Linked DNA regions of Homo sapiens: region 1 is linked to region 2. A link means that fine-mapping ties the variant in region 2 to the expression of a gene that starts in the linked region. Tissue or cell type: testis. Region 2 holds a variant in brackets; the other region holds the start of a gene. All regions are shown on one strand. Distances are from middle to middle.

Region 1 (8,102 bases), 38 kb before region 2:
TGCTTAGTTTGAATTTCTTCATTACTAGAGAAACTAAAACTTTTCTATATTTTCCTAAATGTATTTTTCTATGTATATAACACTTCATTTATCCTTTTCCTTCTTGCATATTAAGGGGATAATTTTTTTAAACCCAAGGAAAAGCATTTATATAATATTGCTATAAATAATTCTAAGAAACTCTGAATTTCAGTTGACTAACAGTTTTGGGTTACCTGCGCTTTGCACAGGTACCATCGTAAGATCCAAATAAATTACACAATTTTTAAAAATGTAGTTGTCTGAGAAGTTAGAGACGGTGTCAAGTGATACCAACTATCTGACACAACCATGTGGCAATTTGATTAAACACTTGTGATTCCATAAATGGCAATACCACTCTCCCAATTTGTCAGTGATGCTTACTTGGTGGTTTTCTTTAAGAGTTTCAGGCTCCTTTGACAATGTGATAGAAATCTGTGGGTTATTTCCACGGAAAATATCCATATGCACACATTTTGCACAACGTTTCACCGACTTCCTAGGGTGCCAAGTTAATAATCCCTGTTTTACAGCAATCTTGGACTTATCTCTATCATTGTTTTTTTCATTTGAAATATTTCTCCCAGCTGCACTGTGCTCCACATCCCCCTTGCCAATCCCCCATTCCATATCTGAGGTTACAGAATGGAAAAGTGCAGGAGAAAGATATAAATGGCCACTTTTTAATGATATCATTATTGCGATGAGCTCTGTGACAGAGCTAAGGCCAGCGTGCTATGTAGGAAAGCCATCATCTGGTTTGAGTCCATGTTGCTCACCCAGACAATCACAATAGCTTCCTAACTGGTCTCTCCATTTTTCTCTTGCCTTCTTCACCAGTTCATATTTTGCCCAGTAGAACAACATGCCTCTTTAAAGCCTAATCAGATCATATTCCTCCTTCATAAAATTCTACAATCACTCTAAGAATATAATTCGAACTGCTATCTGCATAGCCTCCAAAGCTGTACATGATCTGGCCCTGCCCTCTCTCCTGCTGCTCTCTGCTTAGCTGTGTCCATTCTAGCCCCACTTTCCTTCTTCTGCCTCAGGACCTTGGCACTTGCAAAACCCTCTGCCTATGCCACACATCTCTTAGAGCTTCCCATGATCTGCTTTCTCTCTCCATTCAGATCTCAGATGACTGAGAAGTGCATTCCCTGATCACATCATCTAAAATCTTATCTTCGTCTAGATCACTCTTTTCTCTTTATCTTGTTTTATTATTTTTCATCATACTTGACACTACCAGGCACTTTATTTACATGTTTGTTTTCTGACTTTCTCCCTCCAACAGGTATCAGGATGACAGAGTCTTTGTTTATTTACAAATATATCTCCAGGACTTAGATCAGCACCCGATACACATGTGCATTTTCTCAACAGATGTTTGTTAAATAAATGTTGGGGTTACCACTCTACGTATACACATTAGACCACAACTAATTTCTATTACCAGAGTAAAAAGTTAAAAACAGGTTTTTTTTAAAGTAAAAGCCATGAACTACTCCTAAAAGAATAACATAAAAATTGTAACAACTAACAGTCTGATATTCACATATGAAATTTACCTACCATTGTGAAAAATTGGCATGAGAAGACTAGATTTGTAATTTTTATTAAAAAAGTTGTTATGCATTGTATTTGAAAAAATCAGTACAAACACCTGTTAAAGCAGTGAAACTACATAGAAAGATTATTAAATTAAAAATAAAATTTCTCCTACTGTTCACATGTTAATCTACTTTACATGGCATTTTGCAATTGCTTTTTTATTTTAAACCTAATAATGTGTCTTGGACTTTTTTTAAAAAAAAAAACTCAACCCTTGAGCCTCCACTGAATTCTTTTCAAAAGTTTGAGAAATACCTTTGACTTAATAGGCTATAACTTATGAATGGGCATTTAGATTGTTTCTAGGTTTATGCTATTACAAAAATTTTTTTTGAATATCTGTGTGTATGTATATATACATGTATATGTCTGTAGACCATATATAATAATATATACCATATGGTGCATGACGTAATGTATTATATATAATGGAAAATATTTGTCACATACACTGAGTGGATAGATAGATACAGATATATCTACAGAGAGAGAGAACGATAAGTTCCTAGTACCAAAATATTTGAATGAGATATCACCAAATTGTTCTTCTAAATATCATACCAATTGTGCTCTTATCAGTAAAGTATTACAATTCCTGTTTAATTTTACACGTGCCAACTTTGGACATTAGTTAAACTTAAAAATTATAATCTTCTGGGTGCAGTGGCTAACGCCTGTAATCCCAACATTTTGGGATGCCAAGACGGCGGGATCAATTGATGTCAGGAGTTCGCGACCAGCCTGGCCAACATGGTAGAACCTCGTCTCTACTAAAAACAAAAATTAGCCGGGCGTGGCGGTGGGCACCTGTAATCCCAGCTACTTAGGAGGCTGAAGCAGGAGAATCGCTTGAACCCGGGAGGCGGAAGTTGCAGTAAGCCGTGATTACGCCACTGCACTCCAGTCTGGGCGACAGAATGAGACTCCCTCTCAAAAGAAGAAGAAGAAGAAGAAGAAGAATCCATTCCATTGCTCCGGCCTCCAGCCTGGGCTGTCATCCTACACTAGTCCCACCCCTTACACAGCTTCCAAATCTGCCCCTATTTTTCACACCGCTACGCACATCCTATAACAAGCCAATATATGTTTGTCGAATGGATACATGCGTGAACGAATTGGGTAGGGAGTAAAGTGAACTAAATGATGCCACATGTGTTAATAATCACTGAAACATGTTTTCCATTGCTTCTGTTTTTCAAAGCGGTTTTCACAGCTTGAGTTCTCTCCATTCAGCGTCACGAAAGCCCATTCGAAATGGATATCAGCTGACGTTGGCCTGCACGCGTTTGCCTTCCTCCCCTCACTCCGCTTGTGCGCCTCTCTTTCGGCTGGCTTTCCTCTCTCCTTCCATCTCCCCTCTTTCGCTTCCCTTCCCTCTGCGCCCGCGCGCGCCTCCCAGCACGCTGGTCAGCTCCTCTTGCTCGCAAGCAGGTCTGGCCCCAGCGGCGCGAAGTCACGAGGCTGGGGGCGGCCGGCGGCGAAGGGGGCGGGGCGAGGCCGGGGCGCCGCAGCGCGCATAGGCGGAGCCTCGGGCCGCGGGCCGCCTTGGTATATCTGCGCGTGCGCGGCGTCGCTGCTGGGCCAGTCGGGACAGAGGAGACAAGATGGCGCTGCGGGCGATGCGGGGGATTGTCAACGGGGCCGCACCCGAGCTACCCGTGCCCACCGGTGGGCCGGCGGTGGGAGCTCGGGAGCAGGCGCTGGCAGTCAGTCGGAACTACCTCTCCCAGCCTCGCCTCAGTGAGTATCAGAGAGTAATACGTCTCCGGTCTTTGCTCCCTAGCCTAGCCCTTTGCTCCCAGTCACCTGCTTAGCCAGCGGGTAGGGGGTAGGATTTGTTTTTCCCTCCCGCGTCTCCCCTCCGACCCTGACCCACTTGTCTCTTTAGAAGGAGATTTGCCTGTACCTAATATTTCCAGGAGATGGGCTGAGGGCAAGAGCACCAGCGGGAACTTTTTCCTGGGGTTGGTGGGCTCCTGGCTGTTGCCCTACCCCCTCCCCTCCCCAGCTTCCCTAGGCTGGAGCCTTCTTAGGCACTTGCTTCCCGTCCCCGAGGGCCACTTCTTGCCACTCCGATCTTAATCTTCCCCTGACTTCATTTGGATATCTAGGGGTCGAGGGAACGCCCCTTCTCCCCTCCCCCTGGTGAGGACCTCAATGGGGTCTTCAACTCCTGCGGAGGGCAGACGGTAGAGCCTTCGCTGACGTGGTCAGGCCTTTCGTGGATGGAGGTCAGGCCAGTAGCCAGAGGGAGATGTGGCTTGGTGTTTGGTGGAGGGGCTGCTCCGCAGAAGGACACCTAGATATCAGAGAACGCTAGAGCTGAAAAGTACCTTGCAGGTCATCCAGTCCAACCCTATCATTTTACAGGTGAGAAGCCTAAGGTTCTGGAAGGGGTAGGATTTGCCATGCTTCAGACACTTAATTATTGGCAGAGCAGGGACTAAAAATCCAGGTTCTTAAATTCTCGCTGGGCCTTTTTCTACCGTTGCCTCTTCATTTACTGACCAGTTAACCAAACTTGGTTGAGTGCAGGGTTCTTTGGGGAAGCCAGGTGGCTTTGCCCATAGGTGGTGTGTGTGCATAGGCTTGTTTAAATGTTGTGATTTTTTAAATAAAAAGGCCTTAATGAACTAGGTTTAAGTGGATAGCTCAGCAATTCCAAAAGAAATGGTTCTTGATTACTAGAGAATGCAGTTGTGTAGCATCCAACTTCTTCACAGCTTTCTTCGGAACTGGCAATGAGCCCTCGAAATAGACTTTTTAAAAAACTGGGAAAAGCACATGATGTTTCCCCAGGTGGTGAGACTGCATTTTCACTGGTTAATTGCCAGAGTGTCTGTCTCTAGGTGGCCGACTGATTAAAAAGGATTTCAGATGAAGGGTGTTAGTCTGGGCGATCTGAAGCCTGACTAATCCACATCCTGATCTGTCACTGGGTCATGTGATAGCACTGCAGTGTGAAGAAAAAGGAAAACATTTGATTCGGTGGATTGCTGAGATGTGCCTTTTACAGTAACTGGGAATTGTTCGAATTAGAAAATGTATGTTGGGACTTATCTGAGCTGAAGTAGCTACTTCAGGAAATCGGCAGATGTTGCATTCTTATGCAAACCTTGGCAATAAATTTATACCTACGAATTACAAATTCTCTTTTATTAATTGCGTTTGTATGCATTGCCTTTCTTTGGGTAGAACAGATAGACATTAGTGGTGCCTCTCAAAAAAGGTTATAAAGGTGCAGTAGTCAGTTTCCATATAATTAATCATTCAGTGTCAATTCAGAGAATATCAACTGAAATAACGTTGTTTAAAGAGTACTCCATGATTAAGATTGTAAACCTTTAAGAGAGATGAATATGATTTCTCCATGGTTTGTACGTACTTACCCAGTTGCTGAGGGATTTTTCCAGACGTTATTCTTGACAAAACTGTTGTAGCATAGGGCTTCACACTCAACTGTTAGATGTCAGGGATCCTTTTTATGTCCCCACTGCCTAGCACAGTGCCTGACACATAGAATGTGTCTTGTAATTGTGTAACTTGCATTTAAACTCCTTGCTCGAATAATTCAGTGGATAGATTGTGAACATGGGTGGAATCAGAGCAGGGAGTTGAAATGCCCGGTCGAGTTGAGTTTCACTTATATATCCGTGTTATTCTAAAAAGCATAAATGATATCATACTTAGGCTAACAACTAACAGCATTTGAATATCTTCTTATTTTGCCATATTTTTTATTCTACTCAAAAGTTTTAATTGCTTCTGAGTAAATATTGATTAACCTCTTAATTTTTGTGGGTTTTTTTTTTTTTTTTTTTTTTGAGATGGAGTCTCGCTCTGTCACCCAGGCTGGAGTGCAGAGTGGCGCGATCTAGGCTCGCTGCAACCTCCGCCTTCCAGATTCGAGCAATTCTCCTGCGTCAGCCTTTCGAGTAGCTGGGACTACGGGCGCACGCCGCCATGCCCGGCTAATTTTTTGTATTTTAGTAGAGACGGGATTTCACCGTGTTTCCCAGGCTGGTGGCGAACTCCTGAGCTCAGGCAATCCGCCTACCTAGGCCTCCCAAAGTGCTGGGATAACAGGCATGAGCCACCACGCCCAGCCAACCTCTTAATTTTTGTAAATTGATTGTAATTTTTTGTGAATTGATTGATGTTATCATTTAAGGGGACATGTAATTATAGTTATTGTGTGTGTGTGTGTGTGTGTGTGTTGAGACAGGGTCTCACTCTGTTGCCTAGGCTGGAGTGCAGTGGTGTGAGCTCAGGTCACTGCAACCTCCACATCTCAGGCTCAAGCGATCCTCCCACCTCAGCCTCTCAAGTATCTGGGACTACAGACGGACACCACTACGTCCAGCTAATTTTTTTTAATTTTTATTTTTTATTTTTGGTAGAGATGGGATTTCCCCATGTTGCCCAGGCTGGTCTACAACTCCTGAGCTCAAGAGATCCGCCCGCCATGGCCTCTCAAAGTGCTGGGATTACAGGTGTGAGCTGCTGTGCCCAGCCTAAAGCTTCACACTGAACCTTTAGAAGTCAGAGATCCTTTTTGTGTCCCCACTGCCTAGCACAGTGCCTGACACATAGAATGTGCCTTGTAATTGTGTAACTTGCATTTAAACTCAAAAAGCTTTGTTTTTTGAATGAAGAAATGGAGTAATGTTGACAGTTCCACTGTACAAATTAGATCCTTTTAAAAAATAGCTTCAAGATTATAGGACTTTTAAAAGAAATGGAAAACATATTCAGGCTTGAAATTAGGAAATTATCTTGAGCATTTTAGTTGAATTTCTGAAGTCACAAGGAATGAAAACTTGATTTTCTCTTAAAAGAAAAGATTCAACAACATACATAGAGCTTTCGGGTGCTATGTATTTTGAATTTGGTCATCTCCATTTTTCTTGAGACCCTAGATCAACTGGCCTTAAGTTTCTTATATCATAAAGCAGAGCCAGCCCTGCAAAAAGTCAAAATAGGAATCTTCTCCTTGCTTTTTTCCTAGAACCTCTTCTTCAGGTGCTCACTGCTCATCATGCAGATCTCTACTCTTCTTGTACAAGGGAAGATGATTGCTCTGGGTTTTTGTTTTGCTAATAAGGCAGAGGCTAAAAGACTAGGACACTTATTATGCAATGGCTGTCAACTTTTTCTGAGTATTTCGTAATCATTAAATGGTGTTACTAGTGTTGAGCAATATCCTATCCTGCAGGAGGAAGAGGATGTCATCTGATAAAATATGTGCTCCTTAAAACCCGTGTAGATTTTGGGTTTTAGATGTTACTTCATAAATACTTGTCTGGCTCATATGATAGTTCAGAATCAAAGCCAAGACATTTTGGTTGTAAAATATGTTAAGAAGGTAATATAAGCATATATCTTCTGTGTTGTCAGAAGTTCTGATTATCCCCCATTCACACACCTACGGGCTCAAATTCTTTTTCATTTGGAGAGGAGTGGTCAATATGTAGGTAAATAGAAATATTTAGGTAATTTACAAATGGGTTTTTTCCTGTTTTGAAGGGCAACTTAATGTCTTTGACAGCCATAGTTTAAACTGGTATCTCTGTTTTGGGCTGTTAATGGTAATGGTGAGGAAGGCTGGATAAATCTAGAGATAAAAGGTAGTGTTTGTTATCATTCTGCTTGGTTTTCTTTGCAGATAGTTTTAGTACCATGGAGAAGAGCTGTAGTTTTATACAAATTGTCTTTTTGTCCCCACTTGTAGTCCAAGTGCTAGAAGCTGTATGATCTCCATACTTTTTAATTGTACTGAAGACTAAGGCCAGAAATATTATAAGGGTCATAGAGTACCAATCCTAAGATTAAAGAAAAACAAAACAGTTAGAAGCCTGGCTCCCCCATTTAAAAACAAACTTATCAGGGCCTTAGTTTCCTTAGGGTGCATCAGCCTTGCCTACTGTCTTAGCCATTTTCTGCTCCTTTTAACAGAAAACCTGAAACTGGGTAATTTATAAAGAAAGGGAATTTATTTCTTAAAGTTCTGGAGTCTGGGAAGGCCAAAGTGGAGGGGCCGCATCTGGTGAGAGCCTTCTTTCTGGTGGGACTTGAAAGAGTCCCAGGGTGGTTCAGGGCATCACATGGTGAGGGGGCTGAGAATGCAGGGGCACTAGCTCAGGTCTCTCTTCCTTTTGTAAAGCCACCAGTTACCTTCACATGATAATTCATTAACCCATGAATGGATTCATCCATTCATAAGAGCAGAGCCCTCATGACCCATTCCCCTCTTAGAGGCCTCACCTGTCAGTACTGCCACATTGGGGATGAAGTTTATTGCCTGGTGCGTTAAAAAGTAAAAACCTGTTTTGCATACCTAAAATTGCAGGCTTGTGAAATTGTTTTGGGTGGTATCGCTTCATAATTCTTACAAGATACCATACCACAAAAAATGAACCAGTTCAGTTTTAGAATTTGGGCTGTAGTAGAGTCAAAGAATAAGTGGC
Region 2 (8,107 bases):
TGTGGACTTTACCTGGGCGGTTTCCCCAGAGGCAGAGCCATGAGGCAGAGGCGTGAGGCCACTCCTCTCTCCAAATCGTGCTAAATCACTGGGCTCTAAGTCGGCTCACAGGACAGCTTTTAATAGTTTCTGCTACCTCATGGCAAAGCCCAAAGGCTGACCTAATTCTTCCCAGCACAGTGCACAGGCAGAGGAGAGACAGCGATTATGCAGGAGGGCAGCCTCCTTCCTGCCCCAGAGGCCCTGGCCCCAAGCACGCCAGCGTTTTTGTCTTCTCCCAAATAAGTCATACTGGAAAGCTCTCTTGCCCTAGATTTAGGAGAGCAAATATCAGGAGGGTGCTACTTCTTTGGTCACAATCCAGCCGGGCGTGGTGGCTCATTCCTGTAATCCCAGCACTTTGGGAGGCTGAGGCAGGTGGATCACTTGAGGTCAGGAGTTTGAGACCAGCCTGGCCAACGTGGTGAAATCCCGTCTCTCTTAAAAATACAAAAATTAGCTGGACATGGTGGCGCACGCCTGTAATCCCAGCTACTTGGGAGGCTGAGGCACAAGAATTGCTTGAACCCAGGAGACAGAGGTTGCAGTGAGCCGAGGTCAGACCGCTGCACTCCAGCCTTGGTGACAGAGCGAGATTCTGTCTTCAAAACAAACAAATCCTACTCTACACTTAAGTCCAGGTTGAGTAGTGTCCCCTGCCAAAAACTATGTATTTAAATCCTAACCCCCCAGTACCCAGAATGTGACCTTATTTGGAACTAGGGTCATTGTAGATATTAGTTAAGATGAGGTCACACTGAAGTAGGGTGGGCCTCTAATCCAATATGACTGGTGTCCTTATTTAAAAGCGGCCATGGGAAGACAGACGCCCTGTGTGAAGATTGGAGTGATGCAGTTACAAGCCAAGGAATGCTGAAGGTTGCCAGCAAACCACTGGAATCTGGGAGAGCTGCAGGAAATAGATTCTCCCTCACAGCCTGCAGGAGGAACCAACCTTGCTGACACTTTGATTTTCAGACTTCCAGAACTGTGAGAGAATATATTTCAGTTGTTGAAACCACCTGGCCTGTGGTTCTTGGTTACAGTAGCCCACCCGAGCAAAGGAATATAGTTCCTATTCCAATGCCTTCTCTTCAGAGCCACGGGGCCTTCCCTGCGGCACGTCAGGACTGATGTCCCTGAGGGGCCCAGAAAGGCATAAGGAGCAGGTAGCAGCCCCAGAAGGCCTTTCCCTGTGGGCTCTAGAGTCTCAGGGGCACAGCTCTGTCCCCTCCAAGGAGAAGCTCTGGAGAAGGCAGCCCTGGGCATCACCCCCAGGTGGCAGCTTTGCATGTCCGAGCCCACCTTCCCCCACTCTGGCTGGGCCTGTAGACCCAAGGCTCCGGGTGCCAGTGCTGGGGGTTTGTTCACTGGTGGTCGAATGTCCAGAGCACTCACTCAGCGAACATTGAATTTCAGGCTGTCTTGCTCAGCCTAGGAGCTGTTTAGATTGGCCTTGTTTTATCTCAGCCGAGATAGATCTGCCCCACTAGGGCCCTAAAAGAGGCAGGTAGCCCAAGAGGTAATGTGGTCACGGCTGAGAAGGGACAGATAAAGGGGTTGGAGGGAGGAAGAAAGAAGGAAGCCATCCCTTCTTGAGCAAGGTCTGAGCATCAGGAGGCCTGGAGGGGGCTACCTGGTGTTTTTCTCTCACCTGACCTTACCCCTTTTTTGGGGGGACAGGTGCCAGGACTTAACCCTTTCTAGAGGTCTTAGCGAGGAAAGAGTACGTTGAATATTATTGACAGGTGTTTTACATACACTTTCTCATGCCCACCCTGTAACGACTGATTCCTGTTTCACAGATGAGAAAACTGAGGTTTGGGCTAGATAACCAAAGTCCGACGGCACGCTAGGTCTCACCACCAGTCTCCATAGCTGCTCCTGCTCCGTCTGGTTCCCAAACCCCAGCTTTTAGAACAGAATCCTCCTGTTTATGGTGTTGGTCTTGACTTCTCTTGTGGAGAAGCTCTGGATTTTAAGGTGGAGCCTCATGGGTGACCCTAGAGCAGCCAGCTGGGACTCTCTGTCACAGGGGAGCCTGGCGCTAAGCATCTTTATCACCAAGGTCACTGCTGATCATTATCAAAACCACCAAATGTCCCATCCTCCTCCTGCGACCTGCCCAACAGCCTGGGGCTCCTGTAAGTGAGCTGCTGTTAAACAAAGGGCTGCTCGTGCCGCCCTCCCCCCACCCAGGGCCCAGCGGGGACAGCAGGTATCTAAGCAAATGGGAGCGGAACCGCAGCTGCCACCCAGCACATTAAACACTCTGTTTTCTTAATTCCCCCTCCCTGCTAAGTGCTGATTACCGGGTCTGCCTGGGGCCTGATCCTTCCAGCCACCTGACTTCAGCCAGTGGGGCATCCAGAGAACGAGAGCAGCTGGCAGGTCGCACTTCAGGCGGGGCAGCAGATGCAAGACACTGATTATTCTGGGAGGGCTGCACCCAGGGACCGGCATTTGCACTTCAAAGGGGGACGGGCCCCTGTGCCCCACTCTTGGGACCTGGGTCTATTCTGGGGAAAATCATGTTGCTTTGAGTGAGTTACCCACCCGGGCCCCACCCCCTTCTTAACAGAGGGCGGTTTAAACAACCTCTCGGAGTTCACGAGCACTCGCTAGACACTCCCCGGGACCCTCCCCCGTCTGGCAGCTCTCCTTTTCATGGGGTTTGCCCCTGTCTGGACGGAGCAGGAGGGACTCGGGCGTTTAGCAAGTCCCAAACCTGTGCTTGCACTCTTGAATCTCAGTCCTCCCAGTGCCCCTTTTAACGGATTGAATTGTGTCCCCGCAAAAGACATGTTGATGTCCTAACTCCCAGGATTTCAGAATGTGACCTTGTTTGGAAATAGGGTCATTGCAGATGTAATTAGTTAAGAGGAAGTGACTCTTAATCCAATAGGACTGGTGTCCTTATAAGAAGAGAGACCCAGAGGGGGAAACACCGCATAAAGACACAGAGACAGGGAAGAGATAGCCATGCAGACAGAGGCGAAGATGGGAGTGATGTGAATACAAGCCAAGGAACACCTGGGGCCACCAGAAGCTGAAAGAGGCGAGGAAGAAATCTCCCCTGGAGCCTTCTGGGGGAACGGAGCCCTGGACCAAACACCTCGATCTTGAACTCTCAGCCCCTGGAACTGGGAGAGAATTAATTACTGTTGTTATAAGCCACGTGGTCTGTGTAACTCATTATGGCAGCCCTAGGAAACTGACAGACCCCTGAACTTTGTGGCAAAGCATCACAAGGATCTCGCTATGGTGTGATGCCACCCTGAAGCATGGCTGCGATAACCAGCCCCAGGGCTCGCACCCCTCACCCACTCCCCATTTCCCTCCTCCACCCCCACTCCTTGTAATTAAGCCCCGAAGTGACTAAGGAGTAACCAGTGCCCTGAGACCCCATCCCTAGATGGACAGATTGGACTGGACGCAAAGACCACCCCTTCTCTCCCCACAGGGCAGGCGTTGCTGGCTTCCCTTCCTCTCAGGGCCTCTGAGAGATAACAGGGCCCGTCACTGTGCCTGCCCTTCAGGGAGACATAAAGCAGGAGGAACCCCATCTCATGCTAACCCTGCTCCCGGCTCCCCCCACCCCCAGGGTGCTGGGGGTCTTCACGGCCTCCGTGTGCCTCACTGGGCTGTGACAGGGAAAGCCCTCAGCTCTCATGGCCACCTCCCCCATGGTCGCAAGTCTTTCGTCTCTTCTCTCTGTCGAGTACGGTAGCCTAGAAACAGCCGCTTTCTCTGTCATTTACTGCCTAGAATGGCCTCACCAGGCAGCCCAAGTCCTTTCTGGATCACCATGACCCTGTGGGTAGGAGGAGCTGGGCCCCTGGAGGTCAAGGGGTTTGCTCAAGGCCAACTGGGAGAACTGGCCTCGAACTCCTAGGAAGTCTGACTCCCCATCCAGAGCCCTTCCTGCCCTCGTACTGAGCACCTCCGGGGGCCAGTGGGTGCTGGGTTGGCTTCTGGGGCCGATGCATTGAAGGGTAAGATGGG[G/T]CCACCTGTCAGGGGTCACCTACAGCTGAGCTGGCTCTCGGGCAACCCACAGAACAACTACAAGCAGCCACCTCCGCTCTAGCCCTCTTCCCTCACCAGCCCAGACTCTGGCTGGACGCCAAGGCACATGGGAGACATTCAAGCAAGGTTCCTTCTCCCCGACAGTTTGCTTCCTGGCGGCGAGTGTCCACAAATGTCTACACAGTTGGCTGTGGGGCAGGAGGAGGTGCGTGAATGTAGCCCATGCTGCAGCTTGGCCCGGGATGTGAGGTTTGGTTTTAGTGCCATCCATGGAGGGCTTGGGGGATGGGGACTGGTGAGAGACTCTGCCACATCCATTAGGCTTTGGTTTGTGGGGCAGGGTTCAGAGGCCGGGGGCGTGGCAATGATGAGTGCAGAGAAGAGGGGAGAGAAAGGAGGGCGTGGGGGGACTCGGGGGTGACCCGAATTCCCCTCTAGGGTGAGGCTTTCACTCCCCAGCTGTTGAGAGTGCAGAGCTGCGTCCCTCTTTGAGGCTTGCCCTGGCCCAGGCACACATCCATCCCAGCTTGGGGAGGGGGCCCAGGCACTGGCTGGGTGTGGGGTTGGAGTAAGGGTGGGGACGTCAAGGCCTAGCCCTCTCATCTCACCCCGGGTGAGGAGCAGCTGAGCCCTCCGTTGTGACTGCCCCGTGGTGAACTCACCTCTCTACCCATCCTTCTGACTTCTTTTCCCCAAGGTCTTCCCCAAGGTGTAGCCAGAAAAGCTTTCCTCAGACAGGTCTGCACCCGGAAACTTCTTCCCTCAGACAGGTCTGCGCCCGGAAACTTCTTCCCTCAGACAGGTCTGCGCCCTGAGTCCTCATCCGCATCACAGGCACTTCTGGGAGGTTAGCAGGTGCCCTGGTGCCCGTGGGGGTGGGGATAAAACGAAAGAATGGAAGGAAAGCAGCACCTTCCATATGCGGACACCCTTCAGCCCCTCCCACCCACATCCACACATCCACACACACACACACACACACACCCCTACCCTCATGTATACACACACACACAAATGCATACACACATATACATATACACACACAGGTATGCACATACATATACACATACCCACACGCACACTCACACCTACCCCCATGTATACACACATACACACAAATATTCATATATACACACACAGATGCACATATGTACACATACACACACACCTACCCCCATGTATACACACACACAAATACATACACACACATATACATATATATACACACATACACACAGATATGCACATATATACACATACACCATACAGGCACACCTACCCCCATTTATACACGCACACATACACATATACCTATACAGATATACACACACATACACACAGATACGCATGTACATACATGTACATACATACACCTACCCCCATGTATACACACATATACAAATACACACATACACACATACATATATATACACACAGATATACACATACATACACATACACTCTCACACCTGTCACCCCACACACATACATACACATATACATATACATACGTACACACATACACACAGATATATACACATATACACACAGATATGCACATAATACACATACACACACTCACACCTACCCCTATGTATACACACAGATACACACAATACATACACACATACACATATACATATATACGCATACACATTCACATACATACACTCAACCCACCCCATATATGCACACAATTTACATAAACATATGCATGCATAAACATATATATACATAGACTCACACCCACACATACACACATGCATGCACTTACATACGCACAGTCACACATATACATGCAGACATACACATGCATGCACACATACACTCACCCCCATATATACACATGCACACATACATAGAGTCACACATGCACAGCTATACATATACGCATACACACGTACACATGCACATACATACACACGTACATACACAGACACAAAACCACATGCATGCACACACACAGACACCTCTGAAGCCCTAAGTTTAAAAGACATCTAGAAGCTAGAGAAAAAGAGCAGTGTGTGTGTGTGTGTGTGTGTGTGTGTGTGTGTGTGTGTGTGTACAGGAAAAGCACATTTGCTTGATACGCTTTTTCCTTTTCTGATATAGCTATACCCTTTGGGAGTCTATAAGTAGGAAAATCCTCTATCAAACTATAATATTGTAAGGCAGCAGCAGGAAATTGGGCCTGAGCGCGTACACTGCTCTTGGGCTCAGGAAGCAGGGGGAGGCAGGGGGTAACCAGATTGGGTGGCGGGAGCGGGACTTTGAGTGGGGGACTTGCCTTTGGTTTTCTGCAGCATGAGTCTTGGGTGATGCCAGCTCTCCCTGGAGCTGGCCCATTGGCACGCCTGTGTCCTCTCCCACTTTCTAAGTATAGTCTTGGAGGCCCAGCCAGATGAAGGCTGGAGCCAGAATTTCCCTGGAAAGCATTTGCTTCACAAGGGAGGGGCCTGGGAAGCTGATGAAGGAGGCAGGTGAGGTTGACAGTGGGCAGTGGCGCTCAGGCCACTCCTTTCCTCTTTCCGAGGGGTGGGCGGGTCCCAGGCAACCCCCCTGCTCCAGCATGGCAGCAATCCAGGTGAGCAGAGCAGGCCAAGCACCTCCCAGCTCAGATGGGTGTTTTTCAGGGGCCAGAAGAAACGGTGGCCTAGGAGAGCTGGGCCACTGTGATGCATAGTGTGGGAGGACAGCAAGGTGACCCTGACCACCACTGTGACTTCTGTCCACAGCTGTAGCAAGGCTGGGAGGAGGAGGCAACCCAGCAGCAGACCAAGAGCTTGTGCCTTGGCCACAGTCAGGCCTGGGGCTGCGACTATCCACTGTGCACAGGACAGTGTAGAATGCAGGGCTGCTGTGAGGGTTAAATGCAAGTGACAGGATTGAGAAGTCAGCCAGCACCCAGCCCAGTCAATTCCAGGGACTCCAGGGCACTTCCTTTCTATTTGGTATGGATAATACCCGCCACCCCCAGCTTGCTTTGCTGAGTCCCTGGAGTCTGCCTGGAAAACCAGTCAAGCAAAGGGAACCCTGGACCTTGAAACCCGCAGGCTATGTGTTCACGGCCCCCGCAACCCAAGAGGGGGCCATCTGAATGACGGGCCGTGGCAGGCAAATCGTCCTGTTATTTTTGGTGTAAGAAATTTAATTTGCTTCACCTGTCACTGATTACAACTGCTGTCATGAGCCTATTTACCTCTCAATTAGCTGTAATTGAGGCAGTGGGGGGCAAGGGGCAGAAGGAGAACGAGGTGGGGGGGCTGCATGTGTGCATGCTCGTGTGCATGTGTGTGTGTGTGTGCATGCGTATACGCTCAGGCTGGCACTATGTGGCAGAGCTGAGAGAGGGGGGAGAGGGAAAGAGGTGCCAAAGGTAGTGAATAAGGATTTTAACCAGTTCCATTTCGGCCGGGGGTTTTGGTCAGTGTCACAGTCACAGGGTGGCCCGGCCCAGCCCTTCACCACACCCCCCAGCAAATCCCTCCTTGTTCCTTTCTTTCCTCCGGCTGTGCCCTCGGTCCCAGGGGCATACCCCCATAAGGCAGCCTTCTGGTATTGAAACCTGGAGAGAAAAGGTTGCAGGGAGCTGGGGAGGTAGCTCATCAGAGTAAGATCTGTTGTTTCCACGGGGTAGAGCTTCGCCAGGCCAAGGGAGCTTGGGGCACCACTGTAACTCATCTTGGCTTGAAGCAGGGACATTTTGTTAACAAATACTAATAAGTATCATGTCACTAAATTGTGGTAGTCATAATAAACAGTAGCAATGCTTTAACTTTTATTGAGCATTATCTCATATAATTGTCAAAACAACCCTCTGAAGCCCAGAGAGTTTAAGCAATTTATTTATTTATGTATTTATTTATTTATTATTAGTATTAATTTTTGAGACAGAGTCTCGCTCTCTTGCCCAGGCTGGAGTGCAGTGGCGCGATCTCAGCTCACTGCAACCTCTGCCTCATGGGTTCAAGCGATTCTCCTGCCTCAGCCTCCTGAGTAGCTCGGTTTACAGGTGCGTGCCACCACGCCTGGCTAATTTTTG

Alleles and levels. Positions count from the first base shown, and alleles are read on the strand shown. Sizes are in standard deviations (SD) of each study's normalised expression.
As copies of G replace T in region 2, the expression in testis of the gene that starts at base 3,214 in region 1 goes up (large effect, 0.82 SD a copy in GTEx).

Evidence for each region. PIP is the estimated chance that this variant, and not a neighbour inherited with it, causes the effect.
Region 1: ATP6V1B2 starts here. The variant in region 2 is fine-mapped to the expression of ATP6V1B2 in testis (GTEx, PIP above 0.99).

Annotation. Positions count from the first base shown.
Region 1 is chr8:20,194,168-20,202,269 of GRCh38, forward strand. It overlaps ATP6V1B2 (ATPase H+ transporting V1 subunit B2), which reads left to right and starts at 3,214. Exons shown (of 14, transcript NM_001693.4): 1 at 3,214-3,375. The coding sequence starts at 3,240. RefSeq lists a silencer at 2,988-3,267.
Region 2 is chr8:20,232,349-20,240,455 of GRCh38, forward strand. No RefSeq gene overlaps it. Among named protein-coding and RNA genes, the nearest start is that of ATP6V1B2, 39 kb to the left of the region's middle. RefSeq lists enhancers at 1,846-2,355, 2,356-2,865. The variant G/T (reference allele first, on the strand shown) is at 4,045.